Homo sapiens: one gene and its partners. The protein of the gene in region 1 interacts with the protein of each later gene in a pairwise test. Each region holds a gene or a part of one and is shown on either strand. Other genes may lie near its edges. The genes, in order: SYCE3, PRPS1 and NUP58.

Evidence for each region.
Region 2: the proteins of SYCE3 (region 1) and PRPS1 interact in binary tests that used the Homo sapiens proteins (3 or more experiments, as listed by UniProt).
Region 3: the proteins of SYCE3 (region 1) and NUP58 interact in binary tests that used the Homo sapiens proteins (3 or more experiments, as listed by UniProt).

Annotation. Positions count from the first base shown.
Region 1 is NC_000022.11:50,556,281-50,559,934, reverse strand, and holds part of SYCE3 (synaptonemal complex central element protein 3), read left to right. Parts: intron 1-3,529; coding exon 3,530-3,638; intron 3,639-3,654. UniProt on the Homo sapiens protein: Major component of the transverse central element of synaptonemal complexes (SCS), formed between homologous chromosomes during meiotic prophase.
Region 2 is NC_000023.11:107,635,001-107,638,654, forward strand, and holds part of PRPS1 (ribose-phosphate pyrophosphokinase 1), read left to right. Parts: intron 1-3,654. UniProt on the Homo sapiens protein: Catalyzes the synthesis of phosphoribosylpyrophosphate (PRPP) that is essential for nucleotide synthesis.
Region 3 is NC_000013.11:25,314,981-25,318,634, forward strand, and holds part of NUP58 (nucleoporin p58/p45), read left to right. Parts: intron 1-376; coding exon 377-487; intron 488-3,654. UniProt on the Homo sapiens protein: Component of the nuclear pore complex, a complex required for the trafficking across the nuclear membrane.

The DNA of each region.
Region 1 (3,654 bases):
TTTTTTTGGAACAGAGTGTTGCTCTGTCACCCAGGCTGGAGTGCAGTGGCATGATCTCGGCTCACTGCAACCTCCACCTTCTGGGTTCAAGGGATTCTTCTGCCTCAGCCTCCTGAGTAGCTGGGACTACAGGCGCCCGTCACCATGCCCAGCTAATTTTTGTATTTTTAGTAGAGATGGGGTTTTGCCATATTGGCCAGGCGGGTCTCGAACTCCTGACCTTGTGATCCCCCGCCTCTGCCTTCCAAAGTGCTGGGATTACAGGCATGACCGACTAAGCCTGGCGGCTACCTCCACTTCTAACACTCTGGTCCAAGCCTCATCATTCCTTACCTGGAGTTTTGCAGCTGCCTCCTAAATGATGTCCCTGTTCCATGCTTTCCACCCCTTAGTCTATTCTCAACACAGAAGCCAGAGTGATCCTTTTAAGTCATTATTCAAATCACATCACCTTTGTCAGATTTTTCCAGTGTTTCCTCATCTCATTCAGAATAAAAATCGAAGTTCTGGCCAGGCATAGTGGCTCACACCTGTAATCCCAGGACTTGGGAGGCCGAAGCAGGCGGATCACCTGAGGTTCAGGAGTTTGAGACCAGCCTGGCCAATATGGCGAAACCCCGTCTCTACTAAAAATACAAAAATTATCTGGGCATGGTGGCGGGCACCTGTAATCCCAGCTACTTGGAAGGCTGAGGCAGGAGAATTGCTTGAACCTGGGAGGCGGAGGTTGTGGTGAGCCGATATGACGCCACTGCACTCCAGCCTGGGCAACAGAGTGAGACTCCGTCTCAAGAAAAAAAAAAAAAGAGTGTGTAGTGAGAAGAGAAGGGGCTAAAAGGACCTTCCTTGACCCATTAGAGCCAGTAAAGGAGAGAGCCAAGAAAGAGCAGGGAAGGAACTACCACAGGTGGACAGAGTTTGGAGAGAACAAGGTTAAAACATCAAGAGAAGAGAATTTTGAGCAGGAGAAAATGGCCAAATGTCAGTGCTGCAGAGATGTTAAATAAAAGAAAGACAGAAAGTGCCCTGGGTGTGCCAGTTATGACTTTGGTGAGAGCATTGTCAGTGAATGTCAGAGACAGATGCCAGATGACAGTGGAGTGAGGAGGACAGACAAACGTGTGAGGCCTGGCTGCTAAAGGAAGGAGAGGGAATAGCTATAGGAGAGGGTTAAGGAAGGTGTTCTGGACATTTCTTCCTCCCATCACCCACTATTAGCCCCCTGCCCTGCCACCTGCCTGTACCTCCCCACTTACTCTTAGCAAACTATTCCTACTTACCAAAAAGCAGGACGGAGTCCCTGCACGTGGAATGGCTCCATGCCCACAGAAGTACCTCCTTTACAGATCCCGAAAGACCATACACCCTGACCCTGCACCCTCATTCTCAGATCTGCCTGTCAGGCCTCCTGGAGGGCCCTTTGCTCCTCCCTCAGAATCTCTACCCTTAACAGGGAGGACGGCAAGAGGGGAAAGATAATAATTTTCTTTCTTTTTTTTTTTTGAGATGAAGTTTCGCTCTTGTCACCCAGACTGGAGTGCAATGGCACAATCTCGGCTCACTGCAACCTCCACCTCCCGGGTTCAAGCGATTCTCCTGCCTCAGCCTCCCCAGTAATCCCAGTAGCTGGGATTAGGCACCTGCCGCCACACCCGGCTAATTTTTATATTTTTAGTAGAGACTGGGTTTCACCATGTTGGCCAGGCTGGTCCCAAACTCCTGACCTCAGGTGATCCACCCACCTCGGCCTCCCAAAGTGTTGGGATTACAGGCATGAGCCTCCGCGCTTGGCCACGATCATGATTTTCTTTCAGAATTAGAGCTTTACAATGGTCAACTCCTTTATTCAGCCAACATTTATTAAGCACTTGCTGTTTTCCTAGCTCTGAGCTGAACACTAGGAATAGTTCATTGGAAAGATGGCCTCTGCTTTCCAGGACCCCACAGTCTAGTTGGGGAGGTAGAGGAATCCACAATCACAATACCAGCTAAGAGGCACCGTGATGAGGGAGGCCCAGGAAGTCACAGGAGAACTGAGTGGAGGCCCTTAACTCTGAAGTAAAGACCAGGAAGGCTTTCCCCACATGTACAGTGGGAACAATACCGCAGCATCTGTGGCCCATCCCTCCCTGTTTTATGCTTACCTGGCTCATTCCTTCACCTTCATGAGGTTACAAGTTCCCTGGCAGCTCTTACATTATTTATCTATTTCTCTCTTTTCTTACTAGTGCCTTGTAGATAAATAGGTGAGCATCAAATATTAACAGAATGAATTAATGTATATTAATAAAGGTGAGGAGAGGATCTGGAGTGATGTAATTACTGTTCAACATTTTAAATAACAACGGATATGATTTATTAAGTGCTCATTACGGTAGGTACTGTGCTGAACAGTATATAATTTATTTCAATTAATCCTCACAAAACTCCACAAGATATAGGTAATACTAATAATTCCCGTTTAAAAAATACAAAACTTGGCTGGGTGTGGTGGCTCACATCTGTAATCTCAGCACTTTGGGAGGCCGAGGTGGATAGATCACCTGAGGTCAGGAGTTTGAGACCAGCCTGGCCAACATGGAGAAACCCCATCTCTACTAAAAATACAAAATTAGCCGGGCGTGGTGGCACTTGCCTGTAATCCCAGCTACTCAGGAGGCTGAGGCAGGAGAATCACTTGAACCCAGGAAGCAGAGGTTGTGGTGAGCCGAGATCGTGCCACTGTGCTCCAGCCTGGGCAACAAGAGCAAAACTTCGTCTCAAAAAAAAAAAAAAAACTCAAAAAAATTACCAAAAATTTGTCGAGAAGATGTGTAAGTTGCCAAAAGTAACACTGCTGATATGAGGTAGCGCCAAGATTTGAACCCAGGCAGCTCAATTCCAGAACCAGGACAGTCTCTATGGGGCACTGCCTCTAATGCCCAGGAGAATTCTTCTGGAAAGTTAAGTTGATTATAATTTTTTTTAATGTATGAATCATTTCATATTTTAAAATTAAACGTACCCGCCTCCAGGCTCCCATCGCTTGATGTCTGTAATTATTACATTAACTGCTTCGACATCTGTCACATCCTGGTTTGTCATATGGTGTGTGTGACTTACTCCCATATTGCACTAGAAATTCCTTAGGTACAGGAATTGTATCTTTGAAACACATCAGCACAATAGCTTGCATCTTAGTGGGTACTCAATATGGTTTTGCAAGAAAAAATTCCATGTCACCATTATGACAGACTTTTTTCATTATAATGAAGATGTTTTCTGTGTTAATGACTCCAGCCTTCAGCTACGTTTGTATGGCAAAGATGGAAGAAAGGGGAAGGACAACTTATATGTGCCGAATGCTATGCTGGGGCCTTTAGACATGTTCCCATTTAACCTTCACAACAGCCCTGTGGAGTACGTGGTATTGTCTGAATCTGAGAGATGGGGAAAGAATTCCTTAGAGAAATCACTGAGTTATAACCAGTGGAGCTGGATTTGAAATGTAGGTCTGTCTGACTGCAGCTTCTTTCTGTGCATTGCCTAGATGGATGATGCTGACCCTGAGGAAAGAAACTATGACAACATGCTGAAAATGCTGTCAGATCTGAATAAGGACTTGGAAAAGCTATTAGAAGAGATGGAGAAAATCTCAGGTAGGATGTGTGAACC
Region 2 (3,654 bases), on another chromosome or scaffold:
GGCTAATTTTTTTGTATTTTTTAGTAGAGACGGGGTTTCACCGTGTTAGCCAGGATGGTCTCGATCACCTGACCTCGTGATCCGCCCGCCTCGGCCTCCCAAAGTGCTGGGATTACAGGCGTGAGCCACCGTGCCCAGCGATAATGATAAAGTTTTAAAAACATAGCAGAATAGCTTGTCCCTTATACTGTCTGATATCAATTGTCAAACTACATTTGTTCATTTGTTCTCCAACTTTTAATCAAACATCCTGACTCTGGCAAGTGAATGTCTGGAGCACAGATGATACTCTGTGTTCTTGACTGAAACAAGAGCCATAGGCTTCTGATACATGATTGGAAATCAATATGCCTGCCTGACTTTCATTCTCCTCCAGGGAAATGCATATTTTGGTCAAGGAGCTGATATATGGAGGATGAATGTGAGCAGCATTAAAATTTTCTGATTTTTTTTTTTTTTGAGACAGTGTCTCACTCTGTCACCCAGGCTGGAGTGCAGTGGCATGATCATGGCTCCTAACTCCTGGGCTGAAGCAATCCTCCCACCTCAGTCTCCCCAGTAGCTGCAATCACAGGCACTTGCCACCATGCCTAATTTTTAAATTGTTTTGTAGAGAGGAGGTCTCTTTATGTTACCCAGGCTGGTCTCAAACTCTTGGGCTCAAGCGGTCCTCCTGCCTCTGCCTCCCAACCACAGACTTGTTTAACATAAAACCTAAAAGTGACTCTTTTAGCTTGAAATCTCTCGAAGGGCAGAGCTAGTAGTAAAGAAAGATCTGGGCCAGACATGGTGGCTCACACCTGTAATCCCAGCACTTTGGGAGGTCAAGGCGGGCAGATCACGAGGTCAAGAGATCGAGACCATCCTGGCCAACATGGTGAAACCCCATCTCTACTAAAAATACAAAAAATTAGCTGGGCGTGGTGGCGTGCGGCTGTAGTTCCAGCTACTCGGGAGGCTGAGGCAGGAGAATCACTTGAACCCGGGAGGTGGAGGTCGCAGTGAGCCAAGATCGTGCCACTGCACTCCAGCCTGGCGACAGAGCGAGACTGTCTCAAAAAAAAAAAAAAAAAAAAACTGAAAACGTCCCAAAAGTCCCTTGAAATGACCACTGCCTGTTTGTTTTGTTTTGTTTGGTTTGAGACGGAGTCCCGCTCTGTCACCCAGGCTGGAGTGCAGCGGCTTCATCTCCCCATACTGCAACCTCCGCCTCCCAGGTTCAAGCGATTCTCCTGCCTCAGCCCCCTGAGTAGCTGGGACTACAGATGCATGTCCCCACGCCTAATTTTTGTGTTTTTTGGTAGAGACGGGGTTTCGCCATGTTGCCAAGGTTGGTCTTGAAATGGGGAGCTCAGGCAGTCTGCCTGCCTTGGCCTCCCAAAGTGCTGGGATTACAGGCATGAGCCACTGCGTCCAGTCTTAAAAAAGGTTTATCCTAAACTAGTGCATTTTCTTTTTTGTTCTGGCTGCCAGGAATCTCAGCTTCCTTGATTTTAATTGGTTTCTAGTTTGATTTTTTTTCACTTGCTTTTATTTTTCTTGCTTTACAACATAAACTAACCCCATTTGTCTTTTCTTGCTTTTGAGATGAGGGTCTTCCTGTGTTGTCCAGGCTAGACTTGAACTCCTGGGCTCAAGCAGTCCTCCTGCTTCAGCCTCCTGAGTAGCTGGGATTACAGGTGTGTGCCACCACTCCCAGCTCCCTTTCATCTTGGGTTAGAAAGGAATAAATAAGTAATTATCTCCTATGTCAGCTTCTTCTGGCAATAGAATTGCCTCTGCCAGTTTTCATATAAGTCCCTTTTGGAGTTCTCCTTGAAGTTTTGTTTGGGGAGAGAAGGGTGGGTAAAAGTGATCTTGACAGAAATAGGACAGTAGGTAGTTCCTGAAGCCACACAGAAGATAGTGCTTAGAGTGAGATAGAAGTATGGATCTTTTATTTAATAACTCTATTGCCTTTTGATTTGAACTGAAGTTTTCTCTTGTTCAATAGGTATTGTCAGCCATTCTGATCTACTTGTCTATATACACACATACACCTCTCCTTCACCTAGAGGATTAGTTGGAATATAATGTTGTTTGAGGTATCACTAAGGTGATTTTTAAAAATTTTTAAATTATTTTCTTTTTTTTTTCTTAAACCTGGTGAACAGGAGAGGTGATTTTTTTTTCTTGGTAGAGACCCGAGTATGGGCACTGAAACTTTCGTGGTAAAATATAGCCCTACTTCATACTTAGAGTAAATTCCTATGGAGTTACTTAGTAATTGGACCAGAGTACAGTTAACACAGAATGAGGGCAAGGACCACATTTTATTCACCATTGTTTCCCTAGCATCTAGTACAGTGATGAGCATATGAACATTTAATATTTACTGGGTAAATTGCCAGTATGGTAGAGGTGGTACTGTCTTTTGTTAAAGTGTCATTATAGAACAGTAGTGATTCACTCCTTATGATATTTCTACTTCTTTTGCTATTTATGGACTCTGTAACAGTAATAGGTGATGCATCAAATTTTATGTACATCACATGTACCTATATGAAATGAGATACAGGCCACCTGCTAAAATTATGGTCCGGTTATTTGTAAGTACTTTAGACTAACATGTGCCAACCATTTCATGCATCTTTTTCGTGTCTGTCACATGGTAATATTAGAAAATATTACCATAGAAAATGGTAATATTTGTATAGTGCACTGGAGTAAACTGAGGCAGTGAACTGCTTCTGGTATAAGGCTCCTTCAGAGGATCTCCTGAAGCCTAGGTGATCAATATCCACATGTAGCTGTAACCATTCACAGCATACTAGTAGGGAAGCTGTTCTTAGACCTTATTGTCTATAGAAGTATAGTAAAGTCATCCCTCAGTATCCACAGGGGATTGGTCCCAAGACCAAATCTGCAGATATGAAATAGTGTAATATAAATATATATATATATATATATATTTTTTTGATATGGAGTCTTGCTCTGTCACCCAGGCTAGAGTGCAGAGGCACGATCTCTGCTCACTGTAATCTCTGCCTCCCGGTTCAAGCAATTTTTCTGCCTCAGCCTCCTGAGTAGCTGGGACTACAGGTACCTGCCACCACACTCAGCTAATTTTTTTTTTTTATTTTTATTTGAGACGGAGTCTCACTCTGTTGCCCAGGCTGGAGCGCAGTAGCGTGATCTTGGCTCACCGCAACCTGTGCCTCCCGGGTTCAAGTGATTCTCCTGCCTCAACCTCCCGAGTAGCTGGGACTACAGGCGTGTGCCACCATGCACGGCTGATTTTTATACTTTAGTAGAGATGGGTTTTCACTGTGTTGGCCAGGCTGGTCTTAAACTCCTGACCTCAGGTGATCCACCCATCTTGGCCTCCTAAAGTGCTGGGATTACAGGTGTGAGCCACCACACCCTGACTAATTTTTTTATTTTTAGTAGAAACGGGTTTCACCATGTTGACTAGGCTGGTCTTGAACTCCTGACCTCAGGTGATCCGCCCACCTCAGCCTCCCAAAGTGCTGGGATTATAGGCGTGAGCCATCACGCCCGGCCATATGAAATAATCTATGCACATGTTCCCTTATACTTTATTGTTATTTATTTATTTTTTGTAGAGATGGGGTCTCACTGTATTACCCAGGCTGGTTTTGAACTCCTGGGCTC
Region 3 (3,654 bases), on another chromosome or scaffold:
GTGTGTTTGTAAGACAAGATGTATTCACCTGAAAATACACCAACTGAAACTGCTTTTGTAGAGAGGGTTTAAAAGCCCTCTGTAACAAAACCCCTTTATAACAAGTGAAGATTGAGTGCCTACATACTGAATTGATATATGTTCTGGCCCTCGTAATAATGAAAAATCGCATCATCCAAACTGCATATGCCATCGAATTCAAGAAAGGTTATCAGTCTTTGGCCAAAACATCTCCAGGCTTGTTTCTTGTTGTTTGCCTAAATCAAATATGAAGAAAATCTAGGATCCAACTTTAAAAGCATTAGAGTCCTTTGATCAGTAAGGGGAAATTGTTGTAGTCTTTTGATGGAATTTATAAGTTATGTTTTATTTATAGGACTTGGACAGAATGCTTTAGGGTTGACTTTGGGAACTACAGCAGCTACTTCAACTGCAGGCAATGAAGGCCTTGGTGGTATAGATTTCAGTAGCTCCTCAGATAAAAAGAGTAAGTAATGCTGTTGTAACTTTATGTTTTAACAGTTCTGTTGAGGGAATGTCTAGGTTGCTCAAAATTCCTTTGTGTGGAAGATTAGCAGTTATATATTTAGTAGTAACAGTTAGCTATCTTAATGTGTATACGAATATGTATTTTTTAATAGGGATCATGATACATATGCAGTATTGTTTTGTAGTCTGTTCTTATCTAACATCAGAAGCATTTGTCTGTCAGTAACTCTTTTTAAATATTTTAATGCTGCTTAATATCAGTTTTATGGATGGATAAGTTAGTCAACCATTGTTCTCTTGTTAGATGTTTATTTCCAGATGTTTTACTTTGGGAAGTAAAACACTGGGCATTTATCTAAAAAGGCAACATAATATAGTAGTTTAAGAGTGTCTGCTCTGGAGTGGAATTGCCCGGGTTCAGATCCTGGCTCAACTGCTTATAAGCTCTCTGACCTTATTGAAGTTACTTATATTATGTGCTTTGGTTTTTCCTTATCTGTTAAATGGTTTGAGGGTTACTATTTGTAAAACCCTAGCAGAGCCAGACATGTAGGTGTCTCCTTTTATTATCAATGCTTGTTTATATTTTTGGTTATTTCTTAGGGAAAATACCTGGAAATTGGATCATTGGCTTAAAGAGAGGGATATTTTGGAGACTCTTAGTGTATAGTTTGTGAAATCGCTTTCCCAGAAAGATTTTACCAGTTTACCCCCTAACCAGTATGAAAATACCTTTCTTGCTGTGCCCTTGCCACGTTGAATCTTGGTTTTAAAAATTTGCTAATCCAAATTCATTTTGAAAATGTTTTCATTGTTTTTTGTGTTACTTTGTTTTGCACCATCTCTTCTGCTTCTGATGAAAGCATGTTTCACTAGAATATATACCATATATACTAGGGTATATATATACATATTGAACTTCTCTGAAGAAAGATAAATGGATGAAGCTGTGAAATAGTATCTGTGTATCTATATGACTTTTTTTTTAAAAAACTGGACACAGGTTTTATTATAAGGAGATACTATTCTAGGGTGAATTACTATTTTAAAGTTGGTAAAACCTTTTTAAACTTTTACAAAGTTTAGATTTCTCTTTCAGTGAAAATTGACAAATTTCTAAACAAAGTTTGTTTTTACTTAGTTTTCTCTGTAGCAACTCCATAATTAGGAAAGCAGCCTTAGCAGCTTATTTGTTTACTCAAGTGGAATAGCTTGGTACCACTTCTATTACTTTTATTTTAAGCATGAGAGTACTTCTCTATTATAATTGTTTTTAGGCTCAAAGAGCAGGCTAAGGCAGAAGAGTAAGATAAATGTAAGAAATTAATCTCCCCTCCTCTGCCCCTCCCCACATCTTCCTGCTTTCATAGTGTACCTAAGATAGAGTTGAGCAAGGAGAATATATACAATAAATGAAATAAATGTCTTAGATATGACATTAAATTTTATAAATATTTATGTACACACAAACATGTATATAAATAACTTGGGTGTGTTTCTACTATGGATCTCTGATTACTACATCCCAGTTCCCTTTTATCTATTGCTTATATCAAGGGATTCTTTTTTTTTAATCCAAATGATTTCTGTGTTTCTAGTAGCTGTATCAGTTAGCTTGGGCCCTGCAGTACCAGTGTGGGATTTAACCAGATAGAGAGTAGCAATAAACAGCATTCAGTGAAGAGGGGACAGCGTCAAGTGAGACTAGAGATGAGAAGGACCTTGACCCTTTTGAGGAAATGATAGAAGGCCAGATTAGCCATAGAGCAGAAAGATGAGGTTCCAGAAGTCATGGAGTCCTTATTTGCCATGTTGAGTTTTGTCATTATATTAATACCTCAGGCAATTTGGGTCTATTAAAGGGATTTGATGAGATTTGTATTTTAAGATTAAGAGCATTCTGACAGCCATATGGAAAATAGCATTCAGGAAGGCAAGAATTGTCATGGAGAACTGTTAGGAAGCTTTTGTAGAGCTCCACGTGTATTACTGAGGCAAAGCTAGGTAGATTAATTGGGGGTCCATGGTAATCAGGGATCCATGGTAGAAACAGGCTCAAGTTTTTTTTATATACATGTTTGTGTGTATGTAAGTATTTACAAAATATAATAAAATGTCATATCAAAGAAATAATATGCTAGTCAATTTAAAAGTTGGTGAATTATTTGGAGAAACATAAAATGAAATCCTTATTTTTATTTCCATGTCTCATAAAATCTAGGACGTCTATAGAAGATAGGTGGCAATTTTAGAGATACTAAATATGAAAGAAAAAAATCTTAATAAAATACAAAACATGGAAACATAAATTACAGTTGGATGAAAGAGGTAAAAAAGTAAAACCCCATGTGCAGAGGTAAAAGGTAAATGAGGAAAGTAAAATGCTTGATTTTTTTTTTTTTTTTTTTTTGGGATACAGTGACTTGCTGTGTCATGCAGGTTGGAATGCAGTGGTGTGATCTTACCTCACTGCAACCTCCACCTCCCTGGCTCAAGTGATTGTCCTACGTTAACCTCCTAAGTAGCTGGGACCACAAGTACGCAGCACCACGCCTAGCTAATTTTTAAAAAATTTTTTGGCCAGGCGCAGTGGCTCACGCCTGTAATCCCAGCACTTTGGGAGGCCGGGGCAGGTGGGTCATGAGGTCAGGAGATCAAGACCAGCCTGGCCAAGATGGTAAAACCCCGTCTCTACTAAAAATGCAAAAGCTAGCCGGGCACAGTGGCAGGCACCTGTAATCCCAGCTACTCGGGAAGCTGAGGCAGGAGAATTGCTTGAACCTGGGCAGCAGAGGTTGCAGTGAGCTGAGATCACGCCACTGCACTCCAGCCTGGGCACTAGAGTGAGACTCCGTCTCAGAAATAAAAAAAAAATTTGTAGCCACAGGGTTTTGCCCTGTTGCCCAGGCTGGTCTCCAATTCCTGGGTTCAAGCAGTCTGCCCAAAATGCTTGATTTTTAGGTGCTTATTTTTTCACATTTTAACATCTCTGAAATTGAGATACATCTTACAAGAGTCTAATATTAGAAATACATATTAAATTATGTAAATGAGACAAATAATATACTTAATGTTGAAATAGCTCTTAGAAATATATAAGAAAAATACCGTAAGAAAAGTGTGCAAATCACAAGTAAGCAGTTCATGAAAGAAGAAATATACTTG